Homo sapiens: one gene and its partners. The protein of the gene in region 2 purifies or fractionates together with the protein of the main gene of each other region. This does not show direct contact. Each region holds a gene or a part of one and is shown on either strand. Other genes may lie near its edges. The genes, in order: PRKACA, AKAP9, CDK5RAP2 and CSNK1D.

What was found.
Region 1: the proteins of AKAP9 (region 2) and PRKACA purify together in Homo sapiens (affinity purification with mass spectrometry; 7 studies listed by BioGRID and IntAct, with this or other methods). This does not show direct contact.
Region 3: the proteins of AKAP9 (region 2) and CDK5RAP2 purify together in Homo sapiens (affinity purification with western blotting; 4 studies listed by BioGRID and IntAct, with this or other methods). This does not show direct contact.
Region 4: the proteins of AKAP9 (region 2) and CSNK1D purify together in Homo sapiens (affinity purification with mass spectrometry; 5 studies listed by BioGRID and IntAct, with this or other methods). This does not show direct contact.

Annotation. Positions count from the first base shown.
Region 1 is NC_000019.10:14,107,763-14,114,762, reverse strand, and holds part of PRKACA (cAMP-dependent protein kinase catalytic subunit alpha), read left to right. Parts: intron 1-571; exon of another isoform or gene 572-607; coding exon of another isoform or gene 608-629; intron 630-2,286; coding exon of another isoform or gene 2,287-2,439; intron 2,440-6,372; exon of another isoform or gene 6,373-6,778; coding exon of another isoform or gene 6,779-7,000. Other genes in the region: SMIM46 (small integral membrane protein 46), read left to right, coding at 2,287-2,439.
Region 2 is NC_000007.14:92,076,786-92,084,191, forward strand, and holds part of AKAP9 (A-kinase anchor protein 9), read left to right. Parts: intron 1-69; coding exon 70-222; intron 223-910; coding exon 911-1,090; intron 1,091-2,293; coding exon 2,294-3,367; intron 3,368-5,736; coding exon 5,737-5,877; intron 5,878-6,384; coding exon 6,385-6,870; intron 6,871-7,406. UniProt on the Homo sapiens protein: Scaffolding protein that assembles several protein kinases and phosphatases on the centrosome and Golgi apparatus. Required to maintain the integrity of the Golgi apparatus. Required for microtubule nucleation at the cis-side of the Golgi apparatus.
Region 3 is NC_000009.12:120,576,874-120,585,037, forward strand, and holds the start of CDK5RAP2 (CDK5 regulatory subunit-associated protein 2), read right to left. Parts: upstream 3,295-8,164; 5' UTR 3,106-3,294; coding exon 3,047-3,105; intron 1-3,046. UniProt on the Homo sapiens protein: Potential regulator of CDK5 activity via its interaction with CDK5R1. Negative regulator of centriole disengagement (licensing) which maintains centriole engagement and cohesion. Involved in regulation of mitotic spindle orientation.
Region 4 is NC_000017.11:82,242,476-82,249,881, reverse strand, and holds the end of CSNK1D (casein kinase I isoform delta), read left to right. Parts: exon of another isoform or gene 1-184; intron 185-279; coding exon 280-451; intron 452-867; coding exon 868-1,007; coding exon of another isoform or gene 1,008-1,163; exon of another isoform or gene 1,164-3,410; intron 3,411-3,416; coding exon of another isoform or gene 3,417-3,518; exon of another isoform or gene 3,519-3,684; intron 3,685-3,842; coding exon of another isoform or gene 3,843-3,875; exon of another isoform or gene 3,876-3,906; intron 3,907-5,050; coding exon 5,051-5,101; 3' UTR 5,102-7,215; downstream 7,216-7,406. UniProt on the Homo sapiens protein: Essential serine/threonine-protein kinase that regulates diverse cellular growth and survival processes including Wnt signaling, DNA repair and circadian rhythms. It can phosphorylate a large number of proteins.

The DNA of each region.
Region 1 (7,000 bases), on a different chromosome or scaffold from region 2:
CAAAGCCATTGGGAGAGCTGAGAGGGCCAAGAAAAAAGACTAAGGCCCAGGCTCTGGCCAAGTTGGAAGAATGGAGAGGGAGCAGCGGCCCCAGGGGGCAGGCGCCCAGGTCAGACAGCCAAGTGGGGCTCAGGTCGTGGCTGGCACTGGCTGAAGATACCCCTGGGAGCTGGCCCACAGGGGAAGGGGCAGAGCTAGTAAAAGGGAGCCCCCGATCCCCAGGACACAAGCAGATCCTGGCAAAGAGAGAAAAGCACCCCCCAAGAAGACCCTAGATGGGAAGAACTAGTGCCGTGTAACATCCTATGGATGCCTAAGACGGCCAAACACCTTCTGTGCCTTGGCAGTTGTATGGGTGCCCAAGAGGTCTTATCAAGGCAGCTCTCCCCTTAGCGCAACCGCGTCTACAGAAACTCGGAGGGCCCTATCTGTCCCTCCTCCACACCCAGTGGCCTCTGGGTTGGGTTTCTCTTCCTGCTCCCACCCCACGGCTCCCTAGCTCCCCCTGCAGGCAGGGTTCTGGGGACAGACAGCCGAACAGACACGGCAGGTCTCATGAGCCTTCCCAGCCACCGTAGTGCCGGTGCCCTGAGAACAGGACTGAGTGATGGCTTCCAACTCCAGCGATGGTGAGGCTGAGTCCTGTTACTATAGCAACTTCCTAGGCACACTCTGCCCCTTAAGTCAGGGAGGGGCTGCAGCGGGGTCTGGGGCACAGGCGAAGAGAAGAAGGATGTGAACCCCTGGCTGGCCCTGGAAACGCCTCCTGTACAGCCCCGGGCTGTGCGGCCTGGGGAAGAGAGAGGGGATCGGTGGCCCAGTTCAGACAAGGGAGGATGGTCCACCCGGCAGGGGGCCAGCTCAGAGAGGGGTGGTGGAGTGGTCCATCCCAGTGTTGGGGTTCAGCTCAGACTGTAGGATGAGCCATCCCAGTGTTGGGGTCCAGCTCAGAATGGGGGTCGTTCCAGCCAGTGTTGGGGTCCAGCTCAGAGTTGTGTCATTTAGGTAAGCCCAGAGCAGGGAATCCAGGCTCCACTGGAGGAATCAGCCAGCCTCGAGTAGGGGGCCCAGCCCAGGCTGGGCATTCCTGCCCCAGAATTCCCAGGACAGCCAGATTTCAAAAGGGCAGAAGGTCTGAGATTGTTGTCCGGAGGAAGGGGGTTCTGTGGCTGGGCTCCTTCCGAGAGAGACCCCAAGCCCCTTGCCCAAATTGATATTCTGCTGTTGCAATTCCCCATTCCCAGGGCGAGTTTCTAGATTTCTGCTTTCTGCTGTGGTCCTGGCTTTTCAAGGGGTGTCAAGGAGTTTTCCCTATGAACCCAAATGGAATCTGGACCAGAGTGAGAGCTGGCACCCCCCGTGTGGGAGATGTGGGCAGGGCGGCAGGCTGTACAGGCCAGCAGCTGGCTGGGTTACCATCCTCTGCCACTTCCTGTTGCTAGCAGGGGTCCTGGATGCCGGGCACACTCAAAGAGGCTGCCACTGACCCTCTGCTTCTTTTGGGATCTGGAAAGAAGGAGGAAGATGGTCAAGGCTGCCTCCCCCTCCCCCACCCCTGGGTTTAGCCGCTCGTTTCCGGTTTGGACTTTCATGGCCGAGAGTAGAGCCAAGCACAGGGCAAGGTTTGAGAGAGGCCAAGGACATCCCGGGATGCCTTTCCCCTCTCCACCCCCGCATAGGAGCAAAACAAAAGAGTCAGATATACCCATTTTCTCTCTCAGGATAGCAGGATTTGGGGGTTCCACATTGAAAGGGAGTTCAGGGGAGGAGGCAGGGTGGCTCTTGTCGCCCCCCGCCCCAAGCCTTTCTCTCCAGCTGTTCTTTCAGCGAATTAAGGGAGCTCTGGGGCCTCTTTAGCCCCTAAGGAGTCTCTGGCTGTTGCCTGATCCTGAACCTTAACTCTTTCCCCTCTGCCCAGTGGGCACTGCTCTGGGCACATCAGGCGCTGTCCTCTGCACAGTCCAGTGCCCACTGAGGAAGGCAGGGCCTGGCGTCCTGGGAGCAGTGAAGTCCGTGGAAAGGGAAGTTAGTTTTATCGCCCCGCCCTGGGGCACGCAGGCCAGCCAGAGGGACACCCTCGGGAGAATCTTCCCATTGCCTCCTGCCAAGGGAGCCCTCTGCAAACCTTGGCTAGCTTGGAGCAGGTACCTTTAAAAGCTTCTGTGGCAACCAGCTCCTCCTCCCTGGTCCCCTGAGGCCATCCCAAGGAAGCTGACTTAGAGGCTCTGCGTTTTCCTGGTTTCTCAGCAAAAGGAAGATTCCAGGGAGAGCCCAAGGGGGCTGGGGATGGATCTGGGATCAGGCAGCAGCCAGGGTGGGGACTTGGAGACCACCTTCCAGCTGTGGCTGCAGCTGCTCCTCTGGGCCCACCTGGCTGTACGTTTCCTGGGCTACCTGCACCGCACCTTCCGGGGGCCTAAGCCACAGCCAGCACCCTGAGCCTCCCTGGCCAGGGGGCAGAAGGCCGCCAGATCACCCCATCCCACCCACCCTTTATTCTACCCTTTCCTGGAAGAGACAGGAAGCAGAGGTGAGTGTGGGGCCTCTTGATTGAGGTTACCTGCCCCTCCCCCCCATCATCCCTCTCTCTGCCTGCTCCTCCTGGCACTGGCCTCCCCCATGCCCCATCCCCAAATCTGACAAGCTAACAGGGCTAGTGGCACCAGAGGGGACAGAGCCTGGGCGCTCTGGTCCTTTGAGAGGCCAGAGAAGGGCCATGCTAACAGCAAGGCACCCTGTGGAGCGACTCTGTGGGGCACCAGCGGACAGCCAGGGGCTGGGAGCTCAGCGAGTCGGGGAGGTGCAGGATTCAGCAATTCTTTCCTTTTTGCTAAGAGCAAAGGGAAAACGGACCAGACCTTTTGGATTCCCTTCAAGCCTGGCACCTCTCTGCCTTCTTGTGTGGGTGAAGGTAGAATCCCAAGAGGGCACCCTCCACCCTCCCCACCCACTGCTGAATTCTGTGTGGATTATTTGGAGGTTTCCAAGGAAGATGTTTTCTGTCACAAAGGTTCTATGACTGAAGCCAGGCACAGTGGCTCATGCCCGTAATCCCAGCACTTTGGGAGACTAAGGTGGGGGAATCCATTGAGGCCAGAAGTTGGAGACCAGCCTGGGCAACATAGCAAGACCCCATCTCAAAACAAAATAAAACACTCAAACAAAGGTTCTGCTAGTGAAAGTGTTGGATTTGGTGTGACCCCCAGGCTCAGGCCCCTGGGCTAGTTGGTGGCCCAGCCAGGCACCCATCTAGGACTCCTGGCCATTCATTGCCTATCCCCTCTCCGCCTGGTCATTTATTGTGGGGCCTTCTTGGCCACGGTCTCTCTCCATCTGCCATCTACCACTTTCTTTTTTTTTTTTTTGAGACAGAGTTTCACTCTTGTTGTCCAGGCTGGAGTGCAATGGCGCGATCTGAGCCCACTGCAACCTCTGCCTCCCGGGTTCAAGCAATTCTCCTGCCTCAGCCTCCTGAGTAGCTGGGATTACAGGCATGTGCCACCACGCCCAGCTAATTTTGTATTTTTAGTAGAGACAGGGTTTCTCCATGTTGGTCAGGCTGGTCTCAAACTCCCAACCTCAGGTGATCTGCCTGTCTCAGCCTCCCAAAGTGCTGGGATTACAGGCGTGAGCCACTGCACCCAGCCACCATCTACCACTTTCTAGCTCCATGAGGGCTCTTCTCTCTGAATGCTGAGGGAAAGCTCTGGAGACAGGTAGTGGGGGTGGCTCCCCACAAGGCCATGTGGGATTACTGGCAGGCAGATAACCAGCAATGCCAAAGGGCAAGTGTACAGGGCCCCTCGGTGGCAGCAAACCCAGGAACATCAGGGGGTTGAAGGCAGCTCTGTCCACATTGGCCACCCTGGTGCACTGGACTCAGCACTGAAACCAATGGCTGAGTTGGCAGTGAAGTAGTTAATCTCATGGGATGTGGGGGCAGGCAAGTGACCTCAGACCTGATCAGTCTTCTCCTCTGTACAGTGGGAATAACAGCAGCTCCCACCCCACAGGGTGAGAACGAAGCATAGAAAATACTCAGCAAGGGGCTGGTCCCTTGTAGCCCTAGGTGGTGGTTAAAAGGACAAGTCCATAATGCAAGAATCTGTCAGGCTGCGCATTTAAGATTTGAGCACTCAGTGTATCTCCTATATTTGTTTTTGGGGTTTTTTTATTATTACTTTTTTTTTTGAGACAGGGCCTCACTCTGTCACCCAGCCTGCAGTGTAATGGCTCAGTCACGGCTCACTGCAGGCTCTATGTCCCGGGCTTGAACAATCCTCCCACCTCTGCCTCCTGAGTAGCTGGGACTACAGGTGCATACCACCACACCTGGCTAATGTTTTTATTTTTTGTAGAGGGTTTTGATGTTGTCCAGGCTGGTCTCGAATTCCTGTATTCAAGCAATCCCCCCAACTCGGCCTCCCAGAGTATTATTATTTTTTTGAGAAAGAGTCTCACTCTTGCTCAGGCTGGAGTGTAGTGGTGTGATCATAGCTCACTGCAACCTCAATCTCCTGGGCTTTAAGCAATCTTCCTGCCTCAGCCTCCTGCTTAGCTGAAACTGCGGGCATGGGCCACTATGCTCAGCTAATTTTTTAATTGTTTTATTTTTTGTAGAGATTGGGTCTTGCTATGTTGCCAAGGCTGGTCTCTAATTCCAGGCCTCAAGCGATCCTCCAACCTCGGCCTTCTAAAGCACTGGGATTACAGGCATGAGCCACCGTTCCCGGCTCTCCCTATGTGTGTGTGTGTGTGTGTGTATATATATATATATATATATATATATATATATATTTTTTTTTTTTTTTTTTTTTTTTTTTTTGAGACAGAGTCTCACTCTGTCGCCTAGGCTGGAGTGCAGTGGCATGATCTCAGCTCACTGTAACCTCTGCCTCCCAAGTTCAAGAGATTTTCCTGCCCCAGCCTCCCAAATAGCTGGGATTACAGGCATGCGCCACCGTGCCCAGCTAATTTTTGTATTTTTAGTAGAGACGGGGTTTCACCATGTTGGCCAGGCTGGTTTCAAACTCCTGACCTCAAGTGATCTGCCTGCCTCGGCCTCCCAAAGTGCTGGGATTATAGACGTGAGCCACCATGCCCGATCGCTCCCCATATTTTCTTTTCTTTTTTCTTTTTTTTTTCTTAGACGAGTCTTGCTCTGTCACCCAGGCTGGAGTGCAGTGGTGCAATCTCGGCTCACTGCAACCTCAGTCTCCCGGATTCAAGCAATTCTCCTGCCTCAGCCTCCCAGGTAGCTAGGATTACAGGCACACATCACCACCACGCCTGGCTAATTTTTTTGTTTTGTTTTGGAGACAGAGTCTCGCCCCGTCGCCTAGGCTGGAGTGCAATGGCATGATCTCAGCTCACTGCAACTTCTGCCTCCCGGGTCGAAGCGATTCTCCTGCCACCATGCCCGGCTGATTTTTTTGTACTTTTAGTAGAAACGGGGTTTTACCATGTTGACCACGCTGGTCTTGAACTCCTGACCTCAAGTGATCTACCCGCCTTGGCCTCCCAAAGTGCTGGGATTATAGGTGTGACCCACCGTGCCTGGCCTCATTTTTTTATTTTTAGTAGAGATGGGGTTTCGCCATGTTGGCCAGGCTGGTCTCGAACTCCTGACCTTGTGATCCACCCACCTTGGCCTCCCAGAGTGCTGGGATTACAGACGTCAGCCACCTCACCCAGCCTCTCTCCCCATATTTTATACCTCAATTTAGAAAATAATAGGCTGGGCACGGTGGCTCATGCCTGTAATCCCAGCACTTTGGGAGGCCAAGGTGGGCAGATCACCTGAGGTCAGGAGTTCGAGACCAGCCTAGCCAACATGGCAAAACCCTGTCTCTACTAAACATACCAAAATTAGCTGGGCGTGGTGGCAGGTGTCTGTAATCCCAGCTACTCAGGAGGCTGAGGCAGGAGAATCATCTGAACCTGGGAGGCGGAGGTTGCAGTGAGCTGAGATTGTGCCACTGCACTCCAGCCTGGGCAACAAAGTGGGACTCCATCTCAAAAAAAAAAATAATAATAATTAAAAAAAATAAATTGGCCGGGCATGGTGGCTCACGCCTGTAATCCCAGCACTTTGGGAGGCCGAGGCGGGTGGATCACGAGGTCAGGAGATCGAGACCATCCTGGCTAACACGGTGAAACCCCGTCTCCACTAAAAAAAATACAAAAAATTCTCTGGGCGTGGTGGCAGGCGTCTGTAGTCCCAGCTACTCAGGAGGCTGAGGCAGGAGAATGGCGTGAGCACGGGAGGCGGAGCTTGCAGTGAGCGGAGATTGCGCCACTGCATTCCAGCCTGGGCGACAGAGGGAGACTCCGTCTCAATCAATCAATCAATCAATCAGTCAATAGATAGATAAATAAAAAATAATAATAGCTGACATTTATCTGGCACTATCATCACACGGGGCCACTGTTCAACTCCCTTTGTCAAGATGAACTCATTCATTCCTCAAAACCACCCCACTTTACAGATGAGGAAAACTGAGGCCTAGAGAGGTGAGATCAGTTACCCAAAGTCACAGAGTTCATCAGAGACCAGGCTGGGCTCTGAACTGGATCTTGACCCCAAGTCCTGGCCCTTAGCCACTTTGCTGGGCTGTGTCTCAGCAGAGACGAGAATGACTGTTTTCAAGCCTGTTTCCTGGGTTGTTAAGTGGAGACAATGGATACAAGGCAGGTTGCCGAGTGAGTCAGATGAGACAGTGTAGACAGCAGCCGGCACAGGGTCTGCCGGGGAAGTTTCAACATTAGCCAGGCGGTGATGTTCACCTTGGGATACCATGGGGCCGAGGAGTGGGCATCGGGCGAGACTTCCCTTGAACCAGCTCTGGAGCAATGCCCTTGCGATTGCCACGGAGAGGAACAGGGCCAGCTGGGGGCCAAGGTGACAGCTGAGCCCCCCAAGGGCACCTGCTACCCGAGCCCCCGAGGCCTCCATCCCAGGCCCGGCCTCCCCAGAGAAGGGGCCAGAGGAACAGCCAAA
Region 2 (7,406 bases):
ACTCTTCATTTTATCTTGATAAACGTTTGTATAAACATTTTTTCTCTTTTGATAATTTTGTTATTAAAGATTACAAACTTAGAAGAGCAATTAGAACAGTTTAGAGAAGAACTGGAAAATAAGAATGAAGAAGTTCAACAATTACATATGCAATTAGAAATACAGAAAAAGGAATCTACTACCCGCCTACAAGAACTTGAACAGGAAAACAAATTATTTAAGGTAATTAGTTAAGAAAAACTTTTATCTGTAAATAAGTCATAGTTTCAGTCCTATATTGCTTTATTATTATTATTATTATTATTTCTTTCTTTTTTTTTTTTTTTTTGAGACTTAGTCTCACTCTGTTGCCCAGGCTGGAGTGCAATGGTGTGATCTCGGCTCATTGCAAGCTCCGCCTCCCTGGTTCAAGCAATTCTGCCTCAGCCTCCCGAGTAGCTGGGACTATAGGCACGTACCACCACGCCTGGCTAATTTTTGTATTTTTAGTAGAGATGGGGTTTCACCGTGTTAGCCAGGATGCTCTCGATCTCCTGACCTCGTGATCCGCCTGTCTTGGCCTCCCAAAGTGCTGGGATTACAGGCGTGAGCCACCACACCTGGCCCCTATATTGCTTTATTAAGCATTCGATAAATCCAGCTGTTAAATAATACTCAACAGAGGAACATTAACAGGCAGACACATTTGCATACAGCTTATTTTCAGCCCAACCTGAACATTTGAATTCATCATAAATGAAAATTTTGGGATCATTTATCAAAATATTTTAGAATTATTGATTTACAGTAACCATATGGTGTCTCTGATTTTATTCATTTGTACGTTATAGGCTCTGATTTCTTTTGTAATTATGTTCTGAAAATGATAGGTAATGATATATCCAACTGTGATAATTATTTTTGTTCCTAGGATGACATGGAGAAACTGGGACTTGCCATAAAGGAATCTGATGCCATGTCTACTCAAGACCAACATGTGCTATTTGGGAAATTTGCTCAAATAATACAGGAAAAAGAGGTAGAAATTGACCAATTAAATGAACAAGTTACGAAACTCCAGCAGCAACTTAAAATTACAACAGATAACAAGGTATACTCATTTAAAATTGATTATGAAATTAATATGAACCAGAGTTTTAAAGGGCAAAATGGTTATAATGTTGCTCCCCATTGAATTTAAAAAACAAACCAATTTTATTTTATTTTATTTTATTTTATTTATTTTTTTTGAGACAGAATCTCGCTCTGTCGCCCAGGCTGGAGTCCAATGGTGCAACCTCGGCTCACTGCAACCTCCACCTCCTAGGTTCAAGTGATTCTCCTGCCTCAGCCTCCCGAGTAGCTGGGATTACAGGCACCCACCATCACACCTGGCTAATTTTTTGTATTTTTAATAGAGATGGGGTTTCACCATGTTGACCAGGCTGGTCTCTATCTCCTGATGTCAGGTGATCCACCCACCTCAGCCTCCCAAAGTGCTGGTATTACTGGCATGAGCCACCACGCCTGGCCCAATTCTCTTTTATTAATTTTAATTTATTAAGACACATTGGTGGCCAGGCACAGAGGCTCACACCTGTAATCCTTATACTTTAGGAAGCCTAGGTGGGCGGATTGCTTGGGCCCAGGAGTTCAAGACCAGCCTGGGCAACATGGTGAAACTTTGTCTCTACAAAAAATATAAAAATTAACTGGACATGGTGGCATACCACCTGTAGTCCCAGCTGCAGTGAGCCTCATCATGCCACTGCACTCCAGCTTGGGTGACAGAGTGAGACCCTGTCTCAAAAAGAAAAAAAAAAAAAAGCAAAGACACATTGGTTTAATAATTTATATGTATTTTTCTCCCCTCCTAATATTGTCATAGGATTCTAATGTTTTTCAGAAAGGCTCTGTGACTTAGATTTTATCATGTTATTCTAACCAAATCTATTATAAATTATAATATTTAATATGAGTTAAGTAAGGTAATTACCTTTGGTGCCATCGGTTGTAGACTTTATTTCCGTACTTCATCCTTTTCCATTAAGAAGTATTGATATTGACTATTTTCCTAATAGGGAATCAGCAACTAAAAGCTTATATTACTTTATACTTAACAGAACTTTCTGAGCCTTGTTTGATATGATGGGGGAGATATTGGTCTATAATGAAATTAAGTAGTATGTCTGAGAAGTAGTGTATTATTTTTGTGTGTGATCATCTCTTTGAGGTACTGCCCTAAAATAAAGTAAAATTTTCAAAATGTAAATACATATATATTATGTATGTTACCTTTTTCATTAATTATTAGGTTATTGAAGAAAAAAATGAACTGATAAGGGATCTTGAAACCCAAATAGAATGTTTGATGAGTGATCAAGAATGTGTGAAGAGAAATAGAGAAGAAGAAATAGAGCAGCTCAATGAAGTGATTGAAAAACTTCAACAGGAATTGGCAAATATTGGACAGAAGACATCAATGAATGCTCATTCCCTCTCAGAAGAAGCAGACAGTTTAAAACATCAATTGGATGTGGTTATAGCTGAAAAGCTGGCCTTGGAACAGCAAGTAGAAACCGCTAATGAAGAAATGACCTTCATGAAAAATGTACTTAAAGAAACCAATTTTAAAATGAATCAGCTAACACAGGAATTATTCAGCTTAAAGAGAGAACGTGAAAGTGTGGAAAAGATTCAAAGCATACCAGAGAATAGTGTTAACGTGGCTATAGATCATCTGAGCAAAGACAAACCTGAACTAGAAGTAGTCCTTACAGAGGATGCTCTTAAATCCCTAGAAAATCAGACATACTTCAAATCTTTTGAAGAAAATGGCAAAGGTTCCATAATTAATTTGGAAACAAGGTTGCTACAACTTGAGAGCACTGTTAGTGCAAAGGACTTAGAACTTACCCAGTGTTATAAACAAATAAAAGACATGCAAGAACAAGGCCAGTTTGAAACAGAAATGCTTCAAAAGAAGATTGTAAACCTACAGAAAATAGTTGAAGAAAAAGTGGCTGCTGCTCTTGTCAGTCAAATCCAACTTGAGGCAGTTCAGGAATATGCAAAATTCTGTCAAGATAATCAAACAATTTCATCAGAACCTGAAAGAACAAATATTCAGAATTTAAATCAACTAAGAGAAGATGAGTTGGGGTCAGATATATCAGCATTAACCTTGAGAATATCAGAATTAGAAAGCCAGGTTGTTGAAATGCATACTAGTTTGATTTTAGAAAAAGAACAAGTAGAAATTGCAGAAAAAAATGTTTTAGAAAAAGAAAAGAAGCTGCTAGAACTACAGAAGCTATTGGAGGGCAATGAGAAAAAACAGAGAGAGAAAGAAAAGAAAAGAAGCCCTCAAGATGTTGAAGTTCTCAAGGTTAGTTTTGTATTTTATTAGTTTCATTTAAATACCCCAAGAAACTAAGCTGATTGCTAATTTACTAAATATGGTGTTCTGTTTACATCTAACAATTTATACAAGAAGGTTTTTATAAAAATATACCACTTATAAAAAATAAACTCTTGTTAAAAGAAAAACTAGGACAGGCGCGGTGGCCCACGCCTGTAATCCCAGCACTTTGGGAGGCCGAGGCGGGTGGATCTTGAGGTCAGGAGATCGAGACCATCCTGTCTAACACGGTGAAACCCCGTCTCTACTAAAAATACAAAAAATTATCCGGGCGTGGTGGTGGGTGCCTGTAGTCCCAGCTACTCGGGAGGCTGAGGCAGGAGAATGCTGTGAACCCGGGAGGCAGAGCTTGCAGTGAGCCAAGATCGCGCCACTGCACACTCCAACCTGGGTGACAGAGCGAGACTCCATCTCAAAAAAAAAAAAGAAGAAGAAAAACTAGACAAACTAAATTTACGAGAGTTTATTTGAACAAAAAAGGATTCACGTATTGGGTAGCATTCAGAACCAGAGGAGTTTCACAAATCTCTTTTGTGCAACAGTGGCCAGTGAATATTTATAGACAGAACTACCAAATAAAATACAGAAATAGCTTGATTAGTTACAGTTAGGTGTTTGCCTTATTTGGACCCAGTCTGCTCAGTTGACTGCTTGTCATTAGCTAAGAGTTGGCTGTTTATTATACTCCTAAGATACGTTTTCAGTTTGCTTACGTACTCCTAAGTTAGATTGTAGTTCCTTACATAGGAACTCAAGATACAGAGACAGCCTCAGGCCAAATTTAACTTAACACTGTGTAGTCATATTATTATCACTAAAATAATGGATACAGACTGTATTTTATGGTCTTTAAATATGATATTTATTTCATTAACATCATCATTAAATGGAGCAGTCAGAAGAAACTAAGAAACATTAATTTTAGCAAATGTTCTCTAGGATTTATGGGGATTTTTTTCTTAATTTGCTTCTAATATGCATGTTATGTTATCATTCCTTTTAAGTAATAATAAGTATGAAAATATGTTAGGATTGACAAAGAATGCAGACTTTACAGAAAGAAATCTATTATTTAATAGCATCTACTGAATTAATTAATGTGTGGGTGACATATTTTACAATTTTTTTTTTTTCTTGAGACAGAGTCTCGCTCTGTCGCCCAGGCTGGAGTTCAGTGGTGTGATCTCAGCTCACTGCAGCCTCCACCTCCTGGGTTTCCAGCAATTCTCCTGCCTCGGCCTCCCAGGCGGCTGGGATTACAGACACGCACCACCACACCCGGCTAATTTATATATATATATATATATATATATTTTTTTTTTTTTAGTAGAGACGAGGTTTCTCCATGTTAGCCAAGCTGGTCTCAAACTCCTGACCTCAAGTGATCCGCCTGCCTTGGCCTCCCAAAGTGCTAGGATTACAGGTGTTAGCCACTGCGCCTGGCCAGCTTTTACAAATTTTATACCTGATAATAGATTTCATCTGTTTTAAGTAAAAATGCGTAGTTGACCTCTGTAAGTTTACTTATGAGAAGATCTGAAATCGCAGTTATTTCTTAGCATATGACAGATAGGACAAGAGCTTTTTTTTCCTCCAAATTCTCACCTTATAAATTTATAACTTTGAGTAGCTGAACTTCAGTCTTCTCCAAACACCAGAAGATTAACTGATAAATCACAATTCTATAATTATATATTTTGCAAAGAATAATAATTCCCTGGCTTTTTCCTCCTTCATTGGAACTAAGTTACTTAAGTTATAGATAATTAAAATAGTAATATAACTTTCTTTTTTTCCTGGACACAGAGTCTTGCTTTGTTGCCCAGGCTGAAGTTTAGTGGCGCAGTCTTGGCTCATTGCAACCTCTCCCTCCTGAGCAGCTGGGACTACAGGTGTGCACCACAACACCTGGCTAATTTTTGTATTTTTTGTAGAGACAGGGTTTCGCCACGTTGCCCAGACTGGCCTCAAACTCCTGGCCTCAAATGATCTACCTGTCTCAGCCTCTCAAAGTGCTGGGATTACAGGCGTGAGCCACCGTGCCTGGCCTAAAATAGTAATGTAACTTTCCATTTTAGGATGTATATGAATAACATTACTTACCTTTTATTCCCAGAAAATCATTCTTTTCTCAAGAAGAAAATCATTGTCTCAAGAATATAAGATGATGGTTCTGAAAAAGCTTCTCTGTTTTTGGAAAGAGCATTGATTTGTTCCAACTCCTTATATCTGTAGGCAGTCATTCCTTGGATGGTTTTATTAGAATGTATAAGAGCCTTGAATTTAGCTATATTTTTTTTAAATTATGTGTTTCTTGTGTTTCCGCTGTCATTCAGACAACTACTGAGCTATTTCATAGCAATGAAGAAAGTGGATTTTTTAATGAACTCGAGGCTCTTAGAGCTGAATCAGTGGCTACCAAAGCAGAACTTGCCAGTTATAAAGAAAAGGCTGAAAAACTTCAAGAAGAGCTTTTGGTAAGATAAGTAACATAGCTCCTAATTCACTCATTTCTACCTATCTTAATTACGTTTCAAAGTATATACTCTTTTATAACAAATGAGCTCCATAACTTAAAAGCTAGATAAAAAGTATTTTGTGGATTTGATGAAAACTTTCATTGTTATAAATTTCTTTACCAACATCTTCTTGCTTGGTTTTCCTGGAAATCTTTCTTAGGAGGATACTTTTTATTTCCATTCTGTTAATGAAGGAGTAGAAAGTTGTTAAAGAGAACTGTATATCCCATGAGAACCAAAAATAGAAGCTAATAAAATTATTTCATTTCTATAGTAATCTATGACCATACGTACATACAAATATATATATGTAAACTGTGAGCGTTTCTGAAATGTTTTTCCTACTACTCTGAGGAAAATGAACGTATAATCATGAATTACATTCCTCCCACACCCTTTAAATTCTACATTTAATATGGGAAGATTTTAACTGAATGCCCTACTGTTCTATTCATTACGTTTTAGGTAAAAGAAACAAATATGACATCTCTTCAGAAAGACTTAAGCCAAGTTAGGGATCACCTCGCAGAGGCAAAAGAGAAATTGTCCATTTTAGAAAAAGAAGATGAGACTGAGGTACAAGAAAGCAAAAAGGCCTGCATGTTTGAGCCACTTCCTATAAAACTGAGTAAGAGCATTGCATCCCAGACAGATGGGACTCTGAAGATCAGTAGCAGCAATCAGACTCCACAAATTCTTGTTAAAAATGCAGGAATACAAATTAATTTACAGAGTGAATGTTCCTCAGAAGAAGTTACTGAAATAATCAGTCAGTTTACTGAAAAAATTGAGAAGATGCAAGAACTACATGCTGCTGAAATTTTGGACATGGAATCCAGACATATTTCAGAAACTGAAACCTTAAAGAGGGAACACTATGTTGCCGTTCAGTTACTGAAAGAGGAATGTGGTACCTTGAAGGCAGTGATACAGTGTCTGAGAAGTAAAGAGGTATTTGGTTTTTATAATATGTGTTTTTCAACATTGTGTGGTTTTTTAAAAAAAAAAAATCAGTTTAATTCATTTTGTAGATGACAAACCAAAATGCAACTCATTAAGGCACTTGATCTTTCTAAGTAGGTGTATTATCAAGGCAAGTTTTAAACTCCTAGTACAATATTCCTTTTTTTTCTTTTGTTATACTTTAAGTTCTGGGATACACGTGCAGGATGTGCAGGTTTGTTACACAGGTATACACGTGCCATGGTGGTTTGCTGCACCCATCAACCCGTCATCTACATTAGGTATTTCTCCTAAAGCTGTCCCTCCCCTAGCACCTCACCCCCGACAGGCCCCAGTGTGTGATGTTCCCCTCCCTGTGTCCATGTGTTCTCATTGTTTAACTCCCACTTATGAGTGAGAACATGCAGTGTTTGGTTTTCTGTTCTTGTGTTAGTCCGCTGAGAATGATGGTTTCCAGCTTCATCTATGTCCCTGCAAATGACATGAACGCATCCTTTTTTATGGCTACATAGTATTCCATGGTG
Region 3 (8,164 bases), on a different chromosome or scaffold from region 2:
AAGACCAGCATGGGTAACAGAGCAAGACTGTCTCTAAAAAAAATTAAAAACAAAAGCCTTAAAAAGGAAAGAAATTCTGACACATACTACAACACGCATGAACCTTGAGGACATAATGCTAAGTTAAATAAACCAGTCACAGAAGGACAAATAGTGTATGATTCTACTTATACGCGACACTTAGAGTAGTCAAAATCATAGAGACAGGCTGGGCGCAATGGCACATACCTATAATCCCAGCACTCTGGGAGGCCGAGGCAGGCACAACACTTGAGGCCAGGAGTTCAAGACCAGCCTGGTCAACCTGGTGAAACCCCGTCTCTACCAAAAATACAAAAATTAGCCAGGCGTAGTGGGGCATGCCTGTAGTCCCGGCCACTAAGTGGCTGAACCATGAGAATTGCTTGAACTCTGGAGGCGGAGGTTGCAGTGAGCCAAGATCACTCCACTGCACTCCAGCCTGGGCAACAAAGCGAGACCCTGTCTCAAAAAAAAAAAAAAAAAATCATAGAGACAGAAAGTAGAATGGTGATTGTCAGAGGCTGGGAGAAGGGGGGAATAGGGAGTTACTGTTTTAACAGGGACACAGTTTCTGTTTTGCAAGATGGAGAGTTACGAAGATAGATAGTGGTGACCGTTGAGCAATAATACAAATATATTTAATACAACTGAACCATGCTTTAAAATGGTTAAGATGGAATGTATGCAGTATCTACGTCCTGCAAAGGCAGGGAGATGAGGGAAAGGAGAATATTTGCTGATCTGTTGAGTAGTTACTCTGGGTCAGACACTGAGCTAAACTTTTTAAGATTCATTTTAATCCTTATGCCAACCCTAGGCTTTATACCAACCCCTTTTACAGATGATAAACACTGAGGCTCACAGATGATGAGTGACTTGCCCCAGATCAAGGGGTTGTTAAGTAGCAGAACTGGGATTAAAACCCAGCTAGGCCTGGGACCCCAAAACCCAAGTGTCTGGCCAAAAAGCACTGAAATAAGAATGGCTATCTGAGAGAATAATAATGGAAGTTATGATAACAGCAATAAGCAGCATTAAAAGTATAAAGCAGCAGACTGTGAAGAGCAGATTTATATTTAAAAAATAGTTCTCACGCCGGGCGCGGTGGCTCACGCCTGTAATCCCAGAACTTTGGGAGGCCAAGGAGAGCAGATCATGAGATCAGGAGATGGAGACCATCCTGGCCAACATGGTGAAATCCCGTCTCTACTAAAATACAAAAATTAGCCACGCACGGTGGTGCACTCCTGTAATCCCAGCTACTCCGGAGGCTCAGGCAGGAGAATTGCTTGAACCCGGGAGGCGGAGGTTGAAGTGAGCCGAGATCGCGCCACTGCACTCCAGCCTGGTCACAAAGCAAGACTCCGTCTCAAAAAAATAAATAAATAAAAAATAGTTTTCAAATTGTAGTATAAAAAACTATTAGAGGTGCAAAGGACAATACAAGAGAGAAGCCATACTCCCAATATATTGGGGCAGTGGATGTAAAATAGATAGAAAAGGGCATGATGAAATATCACAGGACCCAATTAGACAGGAACTGCAAAGCATCTTAGTCTGTGCCTCATACATGAAGGTTCTCAATAAACAGAAAAACCATTTGTCCAGGTTTACCCAAGATAGGCCCTCTTTATGTCTGCTGCCCGGGCATAAATATTAATTATTTTCACTTTCCTTTTTTTTTTTTTTAAAGATAGAGTCTCACTTTGTCACCCAGGCTACAGTGCAGTGGCATGAACACAGCTCACTGCAGCATCAACCTTCCGGGCTCATGCAATCCTCCTGCCTCAGCCTCCCGAGCGGCTGGGACTACAAGTGCATGCCACCACGCCTGGCTAATCTTTGTAGTTTTTGTAGAGATAGGATTTCACCATGTTGCCCAGGCTGATCTCACACTCCTGAGCTCAAGAAATCGGCCCACCTCGGCCTCCCCAAGGGCTAGGATTACACAGGTGAGCCACCGCACCTGGCTCTTTTCACTCTTAAGTGTCCCAGTTAGCACAATAAATAACATGGTCACCCTTTCAATTAGGATCTGTTGACTAAAAGCAGCAGCTTGTCCATAGTAGAGCTGGATAAACAGTGCAGGTTCTCCGTCAGGGCTCTCCTCCTCTTCCCTCTACTCACTCTCCAACCAGGAGTCTAGGACAACCACAGGGGCCAGCCGTGGAGCAGAGTTGCGCTCTGTTAGGCCTTCCTACCAGACCCCAGCTCCACCAGCAATGGGGACTCCCACAGTCTCTTGGGGCAGGTCCATGGGAGGCCACTCTTGGCCATTATTCCCTGATTCATATCACCTTTGATGACAGTAGTAATAATGACACTAATGGCAACACAAGATCATTTTTTAAGCACTGATTATGTGGCAGGCACTACACCTGCCAAGCAAATGGCTCGACAGGCATCACCTCTTTTAATCCTCACCCCAACTCTGTTGGGTGGATATTACTAGCCCATTTTACAGATGGGAAAGCCGGTGAAATCACTTTACCAAGGTCACACAGCTAGTCAGTTTACAGGGCTGGATTTGAATCCAGTTTTGTCCAACTCTAGCCAAGGTTCTTAATCATTGCACTCCATTGCCTCCTGGGTGGCCACTATGTGACCCAAAAAGCAAAGTCTGGGCATACCGGCTACACTCTCTCCATAATGAAAACAAACTCTCAAACCAGAAGGAACCATCAGGTGCCCTCAAGGTCCCTGTTCTCCACCAATCCCCACTAACGGGATACTCCAAGTGGCCCCACCCTCGTCCTACTCTTTCAGAAAACTCCTTACCTGTTCTTCACACGCTCTACAAAGTACATGGCGCAATGCTACTGGCAATTGTGGTGCAGGTCGCGGCTCCCAGCCCTCCAGAGTGTCAGGTGGTGGGCCCCCCAGAGACCCTCTCCGAAGGAACCCACCCCACACACTGCCCCTGGCCAGACACCCTCAAGAGCAAACCCCAAGGCCGCGTTAGAACGAAATCCCACCAGCTGGAACCCCGGCCCGGTTACCACGACCACCAATGCCCCGGCCGCACCTGCAGCCGCTGAGCGTCCCAGGGACGGTGACGTCCTCTTCCAACACCAAGTCCATCATGGCTACAGAGGTGGCGACAGCGTTGGTGTCTGTGGCGGCGGCGCCACTAGTACCCCCCGCGATAGCGACCCGCCGGGCTCCCCAGGTCCCCGCCCCCTCCACCCCAGCTCTTGTTCAGACTCTGGCGGCGCCGCTGGAATTCAAACCACAGACGCCGCCATCTTTCCCGGCGCTTCTTCCTACGGAAACGAGGCGGGGTCACGGAGGCGCACGCAGTGAAGCCGACCGGCTGGCGCCAGAGGACGGGCAGGGAAGCGGGGATAGGTGCCATCTTAACTAAGGGCAAAGCATCCGTGCTTAAGCCAAGCAAAAATAAGAGACAAAAAAAGGCCGGCTGCCATTTTTTGTGAGGGCACTTAGGGAGAGGCGAGGGCGGGTGCCATCTTTGTTGAGGGCCAAAGCGGGCCCTAGTCCGTTAATTTACGCGGGAGATGGAAATGAATACAGCCACTCAGGAATCCTCAAAGTTCCTAACCTCGTGTTTGCTTTTCTAGAATAATGACCCCAAAACTTTGGGATTTGACCTTAAGTTGAAACTCAGATAACTGAGTGCTGCCTTGCTTTGGAAAAATACTACGTGCGGAATCTCAAGGCAAACAGTAATTTGCAGACTTAGTTTGAAGCAAATAACTCATTCCCATGAGCCAGTGGTCAACAGCACTCCCACTCCAGTCTCTCACCTATTGGTCTTTTATTACCATTAGGACTCAAAGGCACCTGTGGTCAGAAAACTGAGGGCCAGCAAGAGGAAAGGACTCTCCCAAAGTAATTAAGTATTGACAATGTCTTTCAACTGGAGTGGGGGTCTGCAGCTCCTGCCAACTAGATGAGGGCTCTCTGCATAACCCTGGCTGCCTTTCTTTTTTTTTTTTTTTGAAATGGTGCCTCTGTCGCCAGGCTGGAGTGCAGTGGCCCGATCTCAGCTCACTGCAACCTTCACCTTCTGGGTTTAAGCGATTCTTCTGCCTCGGCCTTGCGCCACCACACCCGGGTAATTTTTGTATGTTTAGTAGAGACGGGGTTTCACCATGTTGGCCAGGATGGTCTCAATCTCCTGACCTCGTGATCTGCCCACCCCGGCCTTCCAAACTGCTGGGATTACAGGCGTGAGCCACAGCACCGGCCCCTTGGCTGCCTTTCTTAAAGCACATAGCAATCACCAAACACTTAGATAATCTTGGCAGAGCTTAAGCAATGAAATTAACCTTCCCCTCCTCAACTCAGTGTTGCTCCTTCCTCTGCAGGCCCTTGTGAGAGAGCCCGATGAAAATAACTTGAAATGGTTGGTGAGTGGATAGATAGTGACTTTCCCAGTAATCTTGAACAATTCCCCTTTCACCCTGTTTCCTCATTCTTTTTTTTTTTTTTTTAAATAGAGACAGGGTCTCACTATGTTGCCCAGGCTGGTCTTGAACTCCTGGCCTCAAGCAATCCTCCCACCTTGGCCTCCCAAAGTGCTGGGGTTATAGGCCTGAGCCACTGCACCAGGCCCTCATTCTTCAGTTAAGTAATTAACCAATTATTGATACTTTTCAAAAGAAGCCTTCCCTAGTCATTTAATCTAAATCAAGCCACTTCTTGTATTCCTAGCAATGCAAATTATTCCTTTGTGGCACTTACCATATTTTGCAATTTGTGTGTGTGTGTGTGTGTGTAAAATCATTTTTTAAATGTCTTTCCTTGCACTAGACTGGAAGCTGCATGGGGCAGGGACTATATTCTGAATTGTTCACTGCTATATCCTCAACACCTAGCACTATGTCTGCCACTCAGCAGCTATTTGAAAATGTATGTTAAATGAATGAGTGATTCAATCAATCAGTCTGGAAATAAGGCCAATACCTATCCTGCAAGGTTTTTGTGAGAATAATCAGAGATACTTTTAGGACCTCTGTCAATAGTAATTCTGTGTATCCCAGATTCATATTCATTCTCTCTCTTTCTCTCTCTCTCTCTGTCTCTCTCTCAGCTTTAGTTAGGCTTCCAAAGCCCGCGATTATTTGCCTGTCCCCCTTCTTTCTCTAGATCTTCAACCACACCCACAATTAGCAATGATAAAAGCATGAAAAAGAGGGAAAGCTTAGCACACCTGGTGCACTGCCTCAGGAACGGGGCAGTCCTTGAAGCCCAGGAACCAATACTCCTTGCCAGTAAGTTCAACCCATGAGATAGGTGTGTCCAAAAGCAGGGAAGTTGGGGTGTCAGGATTCCCACCCTGGCTCTGCCACCAACTCTGTGATCTTTGGCAGATCACCTTTTTTTTTTTTTTTGAGATGGAGTTTTGCTCTTGTTGCCCAGGCTGGAGTGCAATGGCACGATCTCGGTTCACCACAACCTCTGCCTCCCGGGTTCAAGCGATTCTCCTGCCTCAGCCTCCCAAGTGGCTGGAATTATAGGCATGCACTGCCACGTCCGGCTAGTTTTGTATTTTTAGTAGAGGCAGGGTTTGTCCATCTTGGTCAGGTTGGTCTCGAACTCCTGACCTCAGGTGATCCACCCACCTCAGCCTCCCAAAGTGCTGGGATTACAGGCATGAGCCACCCCACCCGGCCTGGCCAATCACTTCTCTGTGGACCTCAGCTTCTACATCTGTTAAATGAGAGGGCTGAACCTCTCAGGGTCTCTCAGGATGTTACAGCTCTGGAGGTGATTTCTACATTTCTTTTTTTTTTTTTTTTTAAGATGGAGTCTTGCTCTGTTGCCCAGGCTGGAATACAGTGACGCGATCTCAGCTCACTGCAACCTCCTGGATTCAAGCGATTCTCCCACCTCAGCCTCCCAAGTAGCTGGGATTACAGGCACCTGCCACCACGCCCAGCTAATTTTCGTATTTTTAGTAGAGACGGGGTTTCACCATGTTGGCCAGGCTGGCCTCGAACTCCTGACCTCAGGTGATCCACCCACCTCGGCCTCCCAAAGTGCTGGGATTACAGGTGTGAGCCACTGTGCCTGGCTTCTGTGTTTATTTCAAAGCTACTAACATACAACCAACTCTCTCCTGGGGAGGGAGGCTAACACTTCCCACATGAAAGAACTAACTTTGCATCTCCAGCCAATGAAAACTCTTGAGAATATAAACAAGGAAGAGAACTTATACATTTTGAGCATGTCTTATACGTCACTTGTTCCAGGCATATTACATGCACCACCTCATTTAACCCTCCCAACAACCTTCTGCAGGAGGCGCTACTATCTGACTTACAATTGAGAAGACTGAGGCTGCAAAAGGTAAAAACTACTTACTGAAGGTCCTACAGCTGGTAAGTGCCAGAGCTGGAATTGAGACCAGGGCCCTTTGAATTCCAACACCTTGATTGTTTCAGGCAACCTGTCATCCCCATTTGGGTTTCTCTTTTGCTTTAGAATTTAGTACTAAGAGGCAAGGTCTACATCCAGACGACAGTATTTAAGGGTTGTGTTCACCAGACTCTACTCCTTGGGAAACTGCTTCAAAGTGGCTAAGAGGTGAATCTTAGTGTGGGCAGTTTACAGAACTGGAAGTCTGGACACCTGGATTCTGACTCTGGAAACTCCTCCCATTTATCCTGTGACCTGGGGTTCCTTCCCCTTGCTACACTTCGATTTTCATGTGTAAAATGGGGAGGACAATGCTGAGTTCACATGGTTGCCTCATCTAATTGAATACCTTAGACATTATTGAAGATGAAAGAACCTGTGAGGAGTTGGGTTGTTTTTTTAACTTATTTAATTTTTTTTTTGGACACAGGGTCTTGCTTTGTCAACCAGGCTGGAGTACAATAAGAGTGATCATAGCTCACTGCAGCCTCCACCTTCCAGGCTCAGGTGATCCTCCCACCTCAGCCTCCCGAGTAGCTGGGACCACAAGCAGGTGCCACCATGCCGGACTAATTTGTTTATTTTTAGTAGAGATGGGGTCTTGGTATGTTGCCCAGGCTGGTCTCGAACTCTTGGGCTCAAATGATCCTCCCACCTCAGCGTCAGAAAGTACTGGGGTTATAGACATGAGCCATCACGCCCAGCCTAGGATCTCTCATTATGATTAGTCCATTGCCTTGTTCAGCATGACCATGTCCCTGGGTTGCGTGCTAAACCCTTTAGTGAACCTAGAAACTGAAAATAGAATCAATTGCACAAAGGAAAGGCTATTTGGAAGTTGGTTTTCCTGCTACTGTAGTGGTTTCATGTTCAGAGACAGAGGCCTTTGTCCTGTCTCTGTCTCACCATGATCTTTCTGCCAAACCTAGAGGTGACGTCACTACCACCAGCTGTTTGGGCTATCTGGGGCTATCTCCTTGACAACAGCCACCCAACCACAAAGCTGGCATTATTATTTCCTCAGACAAGGTCATATCAAATGGCTGGGAGGAAGTAGCTTGCAGTCAGATGTTTTTCATTTGGGTAGAACCCTCCTGAAGCTTTAACAGATCAAGACATTTGCACTGCCATTACTAACAGCAAAAATAACTTTTTATAGGATCAATATATACGCAATGCTACTACTTTGCACTCTTCCGTTTTATCCTCATGATGCTGTGAAGTGAATTGGGTTGATCGCCCTACTCTACAGAAGAAGAAACTAAAGGCTCAGAGAGGGGAAGAGATTTCCCAAAGGTCACACTTTTTTTTCTTTCCTTCTTTCTTAGTTTTTTATTTAGAAATAATTTCAAACTTAGAAAAAAGTTGCAAAAATAGTACAAAGAATTTCTAAAATATTAACATCTTCCACAACCATAGCACAATTGTCAAAAATAAGAAATTACATTGATACAATATGACTTATTACAGATCTTATTTAAATTTAATCTTTTCCCATTAATTCCCTTTTGCTGGTCCAGGATCCAATCCAATATTCCACACTGCATTTACTTGTTACATCTCCTTACTCTCCTCCAGTCTCTGACAGTTCTGTCTTTCATGGCAATGACACGCTTTGTTTTTGTTTTTGTTTTTGTTTTTGAGACACAGTCTCACTCTGTCACCCAGGCTGGGGTCCAGTGGCACTGCAACCTCCGCCTCCCGGGTTCAAGCAATTCTCCTGCCTCAGCCTCCCAAGTAGCTGGGACTACAGGCGCACACA
Region 4 (7,406 bases), on a different chromosome or scaffold from region 2:
ATTTGGAAGTTTAAGGAAGTTCTGAGCCCACAGGGAGATGCCATGGCGAGTGGGGTTTTTTCGATTGTTGGGGGAGCTGAGAGGCCTGGCTCTGACCCCTTGTGGGGATGATGCTGTCATCCCATGAGGAGAAACGTGCAGCCTGTGGGGGGCTTTGCAGGCAGTCTCGTCCCAGTGCCCTTTGGTAGGTATTTTCTCACGTGGCCGGGGCAGCCTAGGACCTAGGGTTGCTTTCTGCCAAAGCTGGTTCCATTCCGGCCTCACCTCCTGCCTCCTCAGGGTGCCAGCCGGGCCGCCGATGACGCCGAGCGGGAGCGCAGGGACCGAGAGGAGCGGCTGAGACACTCGCGGAACCCGGCTACCCGCGGCCTCCCTTCCACAGCCTCCGGCCGCCTGCGGGGGACGCAGGAAGTGGCTCCCCCCACACCCCTCACCCCTACCTCACACACGGGTGAGTGCCCCCCTCCCAGCGCTCTGGGGCTGGCTCTGGGGTGACTTCTTGTGTCTTGGGGTTGGTGGGGACAACAGGGTACTTGGTGGTGGACACTAAGTGCCCTGTGTCAGGCGATGCTCGCTCCTGAGGGTGGATGAGCCAGGCTGCCCAGGCGCCTTTAGAAATGCCGGCACCTGCTGGTGTGCGTGATTCCTCCCGCATCTCACGTTCCTCCCCTGTGAGCCCCTTGACCTCGCTCCCATGTCCCTTTGTGTCCCTCCGGCCGGATCTGAGTGTTGGTGGCCATCGGCCACAGCCAGGTCCTGACTGTCCAGGCAGCCCAGGGTCCTCTCTGGCCACAGCCTCTCATAGAAAGCCCCGAGTGAGAGGCAGCAGACGGGGGCGGCCCACTCCGTTTCTCTCCCTGTCCTCAGCTAACACCTCCCCCCGGCCCGTCTCCGGCATGGAGAGAGAGCGGAAAGTGAGTATGCGGCTGCACCGCGGGGCCCCCGTCAACATCTCCTCGTCCGACCTCACAGGCCGACAAGATACCTCTCGCATGTCCACCTCACAGGTAGGTGCAGAGCTCCCGGGCGGGCGCTGGGCCTCGGGCTACCCCGTCCGAGTCAAGAGCGGGCTGTGGTTTCTCCAGGGCTTCTTCTTTCCTTTCTTCCCCCCATTTTTGAGAGTTTTTAATCTCGCCAGGGTGTGGCGTCTTGGTTGCAGATGAGGCTTCTCGGGAGGGCCTGGGAGACATGCTGGGCCGTCATGGGGCTTGTCTCCTGGTTGCAGGTGGCCAGTCTCAGGTCTCAGGTCCCTGAGGCCAGCAAACCGTGGGGGCTTTCTCCTGCTGTTTGAGTGCCCCGCTGCCCGCAGCCGTCCCCAGGCAGCTGACACCGCTCGCCTGCTTGCGCCCCATTGTGGGTGCCCCCAGCCCGAGGGAGCCTTCCTCATTCTTCCTCATTCTTGCCACTGGCCAGGGATGGAGGCCCGTAGGGACCTCCACGGGCTTCTTGTGAGACCCTCCCTGGTGGCATGCCCTGCAACGAGGCTTTCCTTCTTTTGACGGCCTCACCTGTCTTCCCTTGGACGAGAAGTACCCTGTTGCGCAGCCCAGGCCTAGCCACGGCCACCGCCTCTTCAGCATCCTGCAGCGGTCTCTCCTCTCCTCGCTCTGGCTTTTGTTGTCTTTTGCGTTTGCTAACGTGCTCTTTGAACTAGAACAGCTTTCTCCATATGGATCCATTATATTTCTTCAAATAGTTTTCTGGGTTGTTCGCCAACAGGGGCAGGGTTAGTGGGGCAGGGCTGTTTCACCAGCAGGCATCCTGGGGGGTGCCCAGATCCCCCACGGGTCTTCCGGATGAGCAGGAACTCAGTTCAGAAATGCCCTGGAGCCTGGCTCTGGGCTTGTGGGGAGGTGTTTGTTGGGATCACAGGATGGAGCCAGGCCTGCTGCCGTGAGCGGGGCTGGGTGTAGCTGGCTAGCCAGGAACATGCCGGAGTGGGGAGCACTCTTGACCACTTGCCGTCTTTTAATGATTGGGGTTTTACTGCACGTTTCTAATTCACTAATAATTTCACTAGAAACAGACCTTTTTGTATAACTTCTTCCCAAAGAGACCAAAGATGCAGGGATTTTGGCTTCGTGGTTATTTTGACTTTGTGGTTATATGAATTGGGCTCGAGGGGTCTGGGCTGCGTCACGAGAATGGGTCCCTTACGTGCACACAACCCTGCTGTCACCTCCAGACACAGCACAGAAAGGGTTTAACTGGCTTCTTTCCACGAGCCTGGCACTTGCGCATCAGTTCCTGTGAGCAGTTCCCGGGAGGGTCTGCCCGTGCCCTCGTGTCTTGATGTGCGGCTGGCTCTGTAGCCCCTGAACCATGGTACAGGAGCCCAGAGTGCTCCCCATGCTGGGTGCTGACCGGACTTGGACAGCCTCGCCCCAGCGCTTGGCTGACAAAGACTAGGGAAGGGGCCTGAGTGCTTTTTGTTTCTTTTAAAGAAAGTAAAGTGTCCAGTGGTTTGGGATCTTTGTGGGCAGTGAAGGTGTCCTGAGCGTGCTGAGTAGCCACAGCCCTGAGTCCAGCTGCCTTTTCTCGGTACACGGCCTTGGCGGCACCTGGGTGTGGCTGTTGTAGCCACCAGCCCCCAAGGTGGCCGTGAGCAGTGTCTCCTTCCATGGTGAGCTGTGGCAGGAACCCGCAGCTGGCTCTTAGGCCCTCGTTTTCCATATGAGGAAATACAACGTGGGCTCTAACAGCAGGGAGGAGTCTCCAGAGAGAGCTGGTTTGGGGGTGTGTTCTCTCCAAAAGAAGCCTCTTGGCCTCTGCTCCTGGACACCCTGGGGGGCCTTCCTGAGAGGCATGTTGAGGGCTCCCCACCTCCAGGGCGGGCCCCCTCCTTTGTCACCATCTCACAGGAAGGCTTTGGCCGTGTGTCCTTCCTGCCAGACTCTGCCAGCACCAGCACACGTGGTGGCTGTGAGCAGCAGCTCCCGTTTTGAATCCCAAGGGGGAATACAGGAGGCTCAATTGCTCTGAGCGCCTCACCTGTTTGCTCGGGTGAGCTGGAGACACAGTCACCGTGGGCAGTGACTCATCCCCGGCCAGTCTTCCTCCTCGGGCCGTCGCTCTTCCCTGTTCTTTCTGCTCCTCTCAGGAGACCTTGCGCCCTGTGGAGATGGGAGGAGGCAGCAGGAAGGTCTCCCAGGGCTTGCTGGCCGTGGCTGGGTGTGGATGGGTGGAAGACCACGTGGCAGCCTGCCTGTAGGTCACAGAGGCCCCCATAGTTGTAGGGCCCCGCCCCAGCCCGGACTCCGCCTGGGTCTGTTCCCTCTTCGCCCCCTCTCTTTTCGGGCTGTTGGTGTTCGGCCAGGGCTCTTTGGCTACAGTAGCCTGGGCCCTAAAGGCCATCTAGTTGCTGAGTCTGTTTGGGGTTTTTACTTGGTGAGAAGAAGGCCTTGTCATTCCAACAGTCGATGACTCGCTTTGATCAACTCCTGCCCAGGACTAGGCCTGAGCCCTGTCGTCGTACCGGCGAGGATGTGCGTCTCCCCTGCCTTCAGGCTGTGCCCTGAGACCCAGTTGTGGGGCTGCCCAGCACCTGCCATCCTGCTGGGATCAGGTTTTCTTAGTGCTTGAGAAGACTCAGGAGGGCCTGTCCCATGCCATTGTTGGCCTTAAGAGCAAGTGATTCCAGAAGAGGAGTGGGCACCACTCTCATCCAGAGGCCCGTCCTGAGAGGCAAGTGAGGCTGTGCTCTGTGCCTGGGCTCCCCCAGGTGGCACCTGTCGGTCTGTGGACCTGGTTGAGGCAAGGATGCCCATCTGGACATGGAGCCGACACAGGTAGTCAGGGGGCCAGCGGGACGCTTACCAACAGCTGTCTTTTCCCCACCTCAGAATAGCATTCCTTTCGAACACCACGGCAAGTAGCTGCTCGTCTCCCATCGGAAGGCAGCACTGGGTGAGTGTGCGCGTGGCGGGCGCCAGGCAGCAGCGCCAGGTGGGTGGGAGCCACCATGCCCCACCCATGGGAGCTTGCAGGTGGGCTGGGCTTGCATGCCAGGTGCTGGAGGTAGAGTGAGGCTTCTTCTGCTCTGTTCTTCTTGTGGGGTGCAGAGCGGCGGCAGTCCGCTGCCCAGTCTTGGGGGGAGGCTGTCCACAGAGAGCTTTGGAACAGAGTGACCCCAGGAGACCATCCTGTTGGCCTGTGGCCTCCCCGTGACTGCGTTCCGTGTGCCGTTGCTCTCCTCCTGTCCTGGGTGCCCACCCGTGAGGCAGGAGTGGCAAGGCGGGTGCCCCGAGCACTTGAGTTGCCTTGTCTGCGGTCGGCCGTGCCTGGAGGGGCGTCTGTGTCCTGCTCAGCTGGGTGGCTCCACGCTTGGTGTTGGGGGCTCCTAAGCTCTTGCTGCGCCACACTCTGGGCAGTCTCTGCCATGCCAGCTTTTCTAGTCGCCTCTCTCTTCCTGTCTCATTTATCTCTGTCCTTGTTTTGTGTTTCTTTTCACACTTGGTCTCTGCCCAGCCGTCTTGTCCACGCAGCTTCGTCTGTATTAACTCCTCCAGCCGCAGCCCACTCACTCCCCGCCGTCGGTGCATGGCCGGCGTCCACGCTGTGCTCCCTCCTCGGCGGCCACGCGCGCTCGGCGGCTCCTTCCAGCAGGGGCTTGCGCTTCTGTCGGGTCTGTGCCGCTGGGAGACCCGCTGCAGTTTTCACACTGTGCACACTCTGGAAATGTGTTGACAGGAACTGCTTTTCATGTCTTCCCTGAGAGGGGTACCCATTTTCAAACACCAGGTTCCTTTCCAGGAAGGGAGGCAGGAGCACCCGTCTCCGCTCCACTCGGATCCTTCGACCCTGCCGAGCCCGGCTCCGCGGGCACCTTGCTTGCATGCCTCTTCCTCCTTCCCGTCTTCCTGTCACTCGTTCTGCTGAGCACGTGTCCCAGCCACAGAGGCCCCTGTGCGTGGCGGGGGACGCAGGCGTCTAGACTGGGGCTAGGCGGTGGCGGTGCGTCCCCTCCCTGCCCAGCACCGTCACTGTGGTATCTGCCTGGCCGGCTCCCCCAGCCCCATGCTGACCTTCTCCTGTGCTTTGGCTCCGACAGATTCCTGGTCGGGTGGCTTCCAGTGGTCTTCAGTCTGTCGTGCACCGATGAGAACTCTCCTTATTGCTGTGAAGGGCAGACAATGCATGGCTGATCTACTCTGTTACCAATGGCTTTACTAGTGACACGTCCCCCGGTCTAGGATCGAAATGTTAACACCGGGAGCTCTCCAGGCCACTCACCCAGCGACGCTCGTGGGGGAAACATACTAAACGGACAGACTCCAAGAGCTGCCACCGCTGGGGCTGCACTGCGGCCCCCCACGTGAACTCGGTTGTAACGGGGCTGGGAAGAAAAGCAGAGAGAGAATTGCAGAGAATCAGACTCCTTTTCCAGGGCCTCAGCTCCCTCCAGTGGTGGCCGCCCTGTACTCCCTGACGATTCCACTGTAACTACCAATCTTCTACTTGGTTAAGACAGTTTTGTATCATTTTGCTAAAAATTATTGGCTTAAATCTGTGTAAAGAAAATCTGTCTTTTTATTGTTTCTTGTCTGTTTTTGCAGTCTTACAAAAAAAATGTTGACTAAGGAATTCTGAGACAGGCTGGCTTGGAGTTAGTGTATGAGGTGGAGTCGGGCAGGGAGAAGGTGCAGGTGGATCTCAAGGGTGTGTGCTGTGTTTGTTTTGCAGTGTTTTATTGTCCGCTTTGGAGAGGAGATTTCTCATCAAAAGTCCGTGGTGTGTGTGTGTGCCCGTGTGTGGTGGGACCTCTTCAACCTGATTTTGGCGTCTCACCCTCCCTCCTCCCGTAATTGACATGCCTGCTGTCAGGAACTCTTGAGGCCCTCGGAGAGCAGTTAGGGACCGCAGGCTGCCGCGGGGCAGGGGTGCAGTGGGTGTTACCAGGCAAAGCACTGCGCGCTTCTTCCCCAGGAGGTGGGCAGGCAGCTGAGAGCTTGGAAGCAGAGGCTTTGAGACCCTAGCAGGACAATTGGGAGTCCCAGGATTCAAGGTGGAAGATGCGTTTCTGGTCCCTTGGGAGAGGACTGTGAACCGAGAGGTGGTTACTGTAGTGTTTGTTGCCTTGCTGCCTTTGCACTCAGTCCATTTTCTCAGCACTCAATGCTCCTGTGCGGATTGGCACTCCGTCTGTATGAATGCCTGTGCTTAAAACCAGGAGCGGGGCTGTCCTTGCCACGTGCCAAGACTAGCTCAGAAAAGCCGGCAGGCCAGAAGGACCCACCCTGAGGTGCCAAGGAGCAGGTGACTCTCCCAACCGGACCCAGAACCTTCACGGCCAGAAAGTAGAGTCTGCGCTGTGACCTTCTGTTGGGCGCGTGTCTGTTGGTCAGAAGTGAAGCAGCGTGCGTGGGGCCGAGTCCCACCAGAAGGCAGGTGGCCTCCGTGAGCTGGTGCTGCCCCAGGCTCCATGCTGCTGTGCCCTGAGGTTCCCAGGATGCCTTCTCGCCTCTCACTCCGCAGCACTTGGGCGGTAGCCAGTGGCCATGTGCTCCCAACCCCAATGCGCAGGGCAGTCTGTGTTCGTGGGCACTTCGGCTGGACCCCATCACGATGGACGATGTTCCCTTTGGACTCTAGGGCTTCGAAGGTGTGCACCTTGGTTCTCCCTTCTCCTCCCCAGAGTTCCCCGGATGCCATAACTGGCTGGCGTCCCAGAACACAGTTGTTCACCCCCCCACCAGCTGGCTGGCCGTCTGCCTGAGCCCATGGATGCTTTCTCAATCCTAGGCTGGTTACTGTGTAAGCGTTTTGGAGTACGGGGCCTTGAGCGGGTGGGAGCTGTGTGTTGAAGTACAGAGGGAGGTTGGGGTGGGTCAGAGCCGAGTTAAGAGATTTTCTTTGTTGCTGGACCCCTTCTTGAAGGTAGACGTCCCCCACCCGGAGAGACGTCGCGCTGTGGCCTGAAGTGGCGCAAGCTTGCTTTGTAAATATCTGTGGTCCCGATGTAGTGCCCAGAACGTTTGTGCGAGGCAGCTCTGCGCCCGGGTTCCAGCCCGAGCCTCGCCGGGTCGCGTCTTCGGAGTGCTTGTGACAGTCCTTGCCCAGTATCTAGTCCCCGTCGCCCCGTGCAGGAGACGTAGGTAGGACGTCGTGTCAGCTGTGCACTGACGGCCAGTCTCCGAGCTGTGCGTTTGTATCGCCACTGTATTTGTGTACTTTAACAATCGTGTAAATAATAAATTCATAATGACTTCTACCTTTCTTCCCTCCCCTTTCCATGTGGTCTTTATTTCATCAGCTTGAGAGTTTTCACTGTGTTGAGGTGAACTGTGTGAAAATACTTCTTTGAGATGGCTGTTTGTTCTTTCTCAGCCTGTGGGTGTCTGGGAGCTGGCAGAGCAGGAGAGCTGCCCCCTGGGCCTGCTGCCGGGCAGGGAGGGGTGGCGACTGCT